Homo sapiens: one gene and its partner. The protein of the gene in region 2 purifies or fractionates together with the protein of the main gene of each other region. This does not show direct contact. Each region holds a gene or a part of one and is shown on either strand. Other genes may lie near its edges.

The links.
Region 1: the proteins of DNAJC1 (region 2) and GRAMD1B purify together in Homo sapiens (co-immunoprecipitation; one large-scale study listed by IntAct). This does not show direct contact.

Annotation. Positions count from the first base shown.
Region 1 is NC_000011.10:123,601,217-123,604,870, reverse strand, and holds part of GRAMD1B (protein Aster-B), read right to left. Parts: intron 1,446-3,654; coding exon 1,330-1,445; intron 1-1,329. UniProt on the Homo sapiens protein: Cholesterol transporter that mediates non-vesicular transport of cholesterol from the plasma membrane (PM) to the endoplasmic reticulum (ER).
Region 2 is NC_000010.11:21,759,338-21,762,832, reverse strand, and holds part of DNAJC1 (dnaJ homolog subfamily C member 1 precursor), read left to right. Parts: intron 1-3,214; coding exon 3,215-3,495. UniProt on the Homo sapiens protein: May modulate protein synthesis.

The DNA.
Region 1 (3,654 bases), on a different chromosome or scaffold from region 2:
ACTAGAAAACTTCCCTGCATTATACACCTAGAAAGAAAACCTCCTTGAGATGAAGGTGGGTGCTCGTCGAGGAACACTTCAGGGATGCCGCTGTAGCCTCCTCTAAGGGAGCAATCATCAGCCTATCATCATCACCATCATCTGACCTGTACTTAACAAATCCAGATGCTTGACAACTCTCCGGAAATCCTTATGTGCATTTTGGAGATAACCAAATGGGTATTCATAGAGGTTAAGCGACAACACTATTATTTCGACTGAGCCCAGACCTAAGCACAACAGACATTCAATGTTCTTTTCTTGCTTTTTTCCCTGTATGCCTCTTGCACGACCACCAAGCTTGCAGCTAGCTACCCTTCCACCCTCAAGCATGCTTTGTGCCAGTCTACAGGCACATCTTCCCATCTTGCTTAACCTATCGACAGCATGTGATACAGTGACAATACCTTCTGCTTCACTTCCTTCCCGTGGCTGCCAGGATAGGAAACCTTCCTAGGGCCTTCCTCCCTCACTGCATGTGCTTTCAAGCTCTCTTCAGCTGCTTCTTTCCCTCACTGAGTGCTCCCAGGCAGTCCTTGAACTCCTTTTTAGGTTCACCGAGTCACTTGAAATTTCAGCTAGTCTCATGACTATCCACTAATAATTGCTGCGTTTATGGCCTCAGCCCAGGCTTCCCTGTGCACTCCACACTCCATATCTAAATGCCCACTTGGCATCTCCATTTAGCTAACAGGCATCTCAATTTCAACTTGCCTAAAACTACCCTCCTGATCTTTCCCCTGAAACCTGCTTTGCCTACAGTACTGTCCATCTCCGTTTGGAACAATGCCATCCTTCTGGGCAGTAAAACCGAAAAAATCTGAAAGCCACCTTTGGTTCCTTTCTGTTCCATCAACATATCCTTCAAAATCTATTCAGGAACTAAACACTTATTGCCACTTCTCCAAACAACCACCATCCCTCATCTAACTATCTAAATTACTCACCAGCCTCTTCACGGGTTTCCCTGCCTCTGCCCTGGTTCCCCTTTAATGTATTTTCAGTGCAAAGACCAGAGTGATCCTGCTGAAATGTTAAATCAGACCTTAGCAATTATCTTTGCCAAACTTTCCCATCCCACTCTCAGTAAAAGCCAACCATAAAGATGGCCAGGCCCTTAGGCTCTGCCCCCTCGAGCTCCCTGACCTCACCTGTGACCACTTTCCCTCCTTCATTCCACAGTTCATTCCATGGCTGCACAGGCATGTGTGCTGTTCCCTCTGCCTGGCAGGTTCTTCCTGCAGGCACTCGCACGGCTGCCTCTGGGCAGCCGCCCTTGGCCTCACTCACCCCATTGTGTTGAAGTCGTCGTCAGGGGGCACGTAGTCCTCGTCATCACTGGTCAGGCCCAATTCGTTCCCATAGCACTGGTGAACAAAGTGCCAGAGCTCCTTGGGACACAGAGGCTTCAGGGGAGAAAAGGAACGACTGAGCCTTGCTCCCTCAGGTCCCCCGACTCTGCACAGAGGCACTGAGCCGGGCTGGTTCCCCTGGAGAAGAGGAGAAACTCCTCTCTCCTTAGCTGAATGAGAGGCGAGCCACCACCCCCATCTGCCTTGGGGGTCTCAGCAGGACACCAGTCTTCTGCCTAGGAATGTGGACTTTAACAAAGCCAGGAACTGGCCTTTCAGTGCCCAATCCCTCAACAGAGGTTTGTAGAACGTGACCAACTGGCTCCCAGAGGATGGTAACTGTCTCACCTTTTGCTCTTATGGAAAAGGTCCAGCACTGAGTGGCATAAACCCATGTGACTCTGGGGCCAAGGGGATCCCAGAGCTTCTGATTAGCACTCTGAATGAATGCCCAGAGGTCCCCTGACCCGGTGCCCCACCACACTGCACAGAAATCTCCTCTTGTATTAACTGTGGCCTTACAGACCCTACTGGATCACTTCCAAGAATGAGGTTCGACCTCAAAGGTGGCCCATTCCATAGCTGGACAGTTCCTATGGGTAGAGTCTTACGTTCCCACAGTTTTAGGAACCTTACAGGTCATCTCACCTAAGCGTGTGACTACCCAACCTGAGGTGGAATCTGTTTGCCTGCAGTTCTATGCATTAGTTCCAGTGTTTTCTTATTTCACCGGGTGCCTATGTGTCCTCCCAAAAAAACACTGTTCTAAGAAAAGTTTGTTCTCATTGGGTTCAGAGTCTCCAGAGAGAGGCAAAGGGATGTCAAAGAACTAAGATCAGAGGCAGAGACCATGAATGAGTCTCAGACTGGGAGGAAGGGGAGAAGGTGGCAGGGATAAGTGTGTGGAAAGGAGGGCAAGGGCATGAAGAAAAACAGAAGCAATCATTATCTTTAAAAAAAAAAATCCCATTTCAAAAATGTTTGCACCGATAGACTTCCTAAAGAATTTGGGTGCAGCACACCAACATGGCACATGTATACACATAGAACTAACCTGCACGTTGTGCACATGTACCCTAAAACTTAAAGTATAATAAAAAAATTTAAAAATATAAAAAATAAAAATTGAACAATATTCCATTGGGAGTAAAAATAACAATAATAATAATAATAATAATTTGAGAGCTCCCAAGCCCACAGTTTCAGGTATGGTTTAAGAAGCAGGCAGCTGGCAGAGTACAATGAGCTAGGATTCCAGCTTTCTGACTAAGGAGAAGTGCCTGGAATGGCAGATTTGGGGCCCTGACTCTAGGCTGGCAGAGTTGGGGGCCGCAGCTCTCTATGCTGGACCTCATAGTGCCTGAGGGAGGTATCACCTCCTTCTCTCCTGGACCTCCCCCTCCTATCTCTGGCCTTTATGTGCAACATCCACCCTGCCTGGGACAACATTCACCCTGCCTGGGACACATCTGCCTCTCTGCCAAACCATATACTGCCCTGCTCCACCCTTTGCTTGCTCTCTGCAGACTTCTCTGACCAGCGCCACCTGGCTTGGCTTGGCCAACCACGATCAGGACAAGCACAGTTAGCAGACTCTCCTCGGCAGGCCCAATTCTTACAATTATTTGTGAGGGCATTTGCGAAGCATATGAATGACCCTGTGTCTTACTTAAAAATGACAGCAGCTGTGAACTGAAAACTCAAACCTGCCAGTAGAGACTAAAACACATAATCATTTTACTATTACTGATGGCAAGTGAAGGCAGAGGACCACAGCTCAAATAAGTTATCAGGAGTGATACTAGGGGTACAGACTCTCAGAAGAGAAGAAACTCTAAATAATAAATCCACTCAATTTTCTTATGCAGCCATTTGTTTGGGCTAGAGTCAAGGCCAATATATGTATATATTTAAATACACCCATGTCAATCATACACACACACACACACACACACACACACACATAAAAATTAATCCTGGGGGAAACATTATGTGTGTGTGTCGGTGCGTTTTCTCCTACATCTCTTTCTCTGGCTTGGAGACAGTTTCTCAACATCCAACTGCATCTGAGTGGGAACTTTTTTTTTTTTTAATTGAAACAGGGTCTTGCTCTGTCATCCAGGCTGGAATGCAGTGGCGCAATCACAGCTCACTGCATGAAGGGGTGGCTTCATCTGTGTCTCTTCATAGTTTCATTTAAACACTCAACTAGTCAATTCGTGGTGGCTGTGTTAACTACATTTTCTGTACTTTAAGTTGTGGC
Region 2 (3,495 bases):
AAATAGAATTTTAACCTGTAAATCTTTCAAACAAAGTGAACTCATTTGTTAAAAATACAGCCAGGCGTGATGGTGTAGGCCTGTAGTCCCAGCTGCCCAGGAGGCTGAGGTGGGAGGATCACTTGAGCCCAGAAGTTGGAGGCTGCAGTGAGCTATGATCACACCACTGCACTCCAGCCTGGGTGACAGAGCAAGAGCCCCATCTCAGATAAATAAGTAACACTTTCTATTTAGTTTGCAAGAACAAATGATTGGCTTGGGGAAGATTTTTATGAAAATGTTTTCATAATTTGTATTGCACAATGAATACCAGAGCATGGTAAACTTGGCCAGCAGGACGCTACATGTGGATAGATGTATCCTTTTGGGTCATCTTTTCCAACTAGGATGGCCATTCAAAGTTAGGTGCCAAAATAAAGCAAATTTGGAGCCAGACCTTTAATTGAGTATTTTATCCAGTATTAAGCAATTTTTCAATCTCATTGTTTTTAATATTAATATTTTCATTAGAATGTTTCATGTCACTTAATGATGTTTTTAGATTGTGGTGGATATAATTGAATAAGTAAATATACATATATTAGAATTGCATTTTCGGCTGGGCGTGGTGGCTCATGCCTGTAATCCCAACACTTTGGGAGGCTGAGGCACTCAGATCACGAGGTCAAGAGATTGAGACCATCCTGGCCAACATGGTGAAACCTCGTCTGTTCTATAAATACAAAAATTAGCTGGGCATGGTGGCGCGTGCCTGTAGTCCCAGCTCCTCGAGAGGCTGACGCCTGTAGTCCCAGCTACTCGAGAGGCTGAGGCAGGAGAATCACTTGAACCCAGGAGGCAGAGGTTGCAGGGAGGCAAAATCGCGCCCCTTCACTCCAGCCTGGTGAAAGAGTGAGACTCCATCTCAAAAAATAAAAATAAAAAAAAATTGTGTTTTCAAAGATGTTTTATTGATGGGGTTCATAATAAAAAATATGGAGGAGATAATGATTATGAAATGCCACTTGTTAGTAGTAACAAAAGACTAGGACCTGGAACTTTAGTGAGCTAATACAGAATAACCTCCAGGGAGTTTGTTGCCATTAACGTAAGAAAGGAGAAGGCTAATGCAGCTACATAGGGTGTGTGACACTGTTTCTAGACGTTCACACACTCACACTCCAACTCATTTTTGCCTCTTACAGAGCAGACCAGGAATGCAGACTAAGCCACTTTTCATTGTATTCCTTTTTGTAGTTTTTATATTTTTAAAAATTATATCTAGATTTTTTTTTTTTTTTTTTAGACGGAGTCTCACTCTGTCGCCCAGGCTGTGGTACGATCTCAGTACACTGCAACCTCTGCCTCCCAGGTTCAAGCGATTCTCCTGCCTCGGCCTCCTGAGTAGCTGGAATTACAGGCACGTGCCACCACACCCGGCTAATTTTTGCATTTTTGTAGAGACAGGGTTTCACCATGTTGGCCAGGCTGGTCTCGAACTCCTGACCTCAGGGGATCCCCCCTGCCTTGGCCTCCCAAAGTGTTGGGATTACAGGCGTGAGCCACCGTGTACAGCTGGGATTTTGTTTTTTATTAAATAAAAGCCTACTATAAAGAGGAAACATTACTGTAGAAAAGGAAATAAAATATTGCCCCCTTTTTTGTTGTTGTTTTGAGACAGAGCAAGACTTTGTTTCCCAGGCTGGAGTGCAGTGGCACAGTCTTGGCTCACTGCAGCCTCTGCCTCCTGGGTTCAAGCGATTTTCATGCCTCAGCCACCCAAGTAGTTGGGATGACAGGCATGCGCCACCATGCCCAGCTAATTTTTTGTATTTTTAGTAGAGACGGGGTTTTGCCATGTTGCCCAAGCTGGTCTGGAACTCCTGGCCTCAAGTGATCCACCTTGCCTTGGCCTCCCAAAGTCCTGGAATTACACGCTTGAGCCACACTGCACCTGGCCTAAAATACTGCCTCTTTGTAGCTAAATTTGTATATACATCTGTAATTATTTCCATAGGAGAACCTCCTCTAAGTAAAATTACAGAGTCACAAGTAAATACATTCTTAAGGTTCACCTCCATTTGACAAATTGTTCTTTAAAAAGGCTAGACCTGTGCTGTCTAATATGGTAGCCACTTGCCACATGTAGCTATTTATATTAAAGTTTAAATTAATTAGAATTAAATAAAGTTAAAAACTTAATTCCTCAGTACTACACCAAGTGGTTTATATAATTGTATCACAGCATGTTTCATTGGACAGCTCTGGGCTGGGCCAGTTTCTGCTCCCACGCCCCGTGTCCAAATGTACCTATTTCCCTGCATTTTGCCAGCACTGGGTATTGTCATACTTTCTAATCTTTGCCAATTTAATAATTGAAAAGTAGTGATTCTTTGTTTTAGTTCTCTGATACTCATCAGCTACTGTAGTTCTTCCTTTGTGAGCTGTGTTCTTTGTCCTTTTATCTTAATGAGTTGTAACTGCTACTGTATTGAGGATATCAGTGCTCTGTCATCTATTCTGTCCTATTAAAAGGTTTAAAGCTTTTGTTATTAATTATTATTACTTTTAGAGACAAGATCTCATTCTGTTGCCCGGGCTGAAGCACAGTGGCGTGATCATAGCTGACTGCAGCCTCAAACTCCTGGGCTCAAGCAGTCCTCCCTCCTTAGCCTCCCTAGTAGCTAGGAATACAGGTGTATACCACCAGGCCCAGCTAATAAACTTTTTAATAAAATGTTTCTTTTCCATGTTTAAAAATTCTTACTGTAGCTACTATTTGTAAGTGTATAATTTACTCATACACTTGCCTTCCAGAGGCAGCACAGTTTTAAGGTTTGACCAGTTGATTTTTGTCTTTCCAGTGGAGCCAGTGAATCCTTTCTTATACTGAGTAGCAGGTTATTCCCTCTCAAAGAGATGTTTGCATTCTTGTTCACAATCTGATTCTTTATATACCCATTATTCCTCAGAGTAGAGAAAGGGACAAAGGCTTGGAATCAGACAGAAGTGGGTTCAAATCCCACTCTAGTGCTTTCTGAGTCTTCTTTTTCTCATCTGTAACATTAGGGTAATGATCCCTATCTTTCTAGAATAGAGTAGTGTGGAAATGAAATTAAACCATGCATGCAAAATGCCTAGTGCGCTGCCTGCTCTGTGCCCGGCAGCTGCTGTTCTCACCGTCTCCTTAATTCACCTTGCCCTTCACCTCTGTGTGGCACACCCTCTTTCCTAGGAATGGTTAGACTCTCCGAACTCAAATCGACAGTTCAGAATTCCAGGCCCATCAAAACGGCCACCACCTTGCCCGATGACATGATCACCCAGCGAGAGGACGCAGAGGGGGTGGCAGCGGAGGAGGAGCAGGAGGGAGACTCCGGTGAGCAGGAGACCGGGGCCACTGATGCCCGGCCTCGGAGGCGGAAGCCAGCCAGGCTGCTGGAGGCTACAGCGAAGCCGGAGCCAGAGGAGAAGTCCAGAGCCAAGCGGCAGAAGGACTTTGACATAGCAGAACAA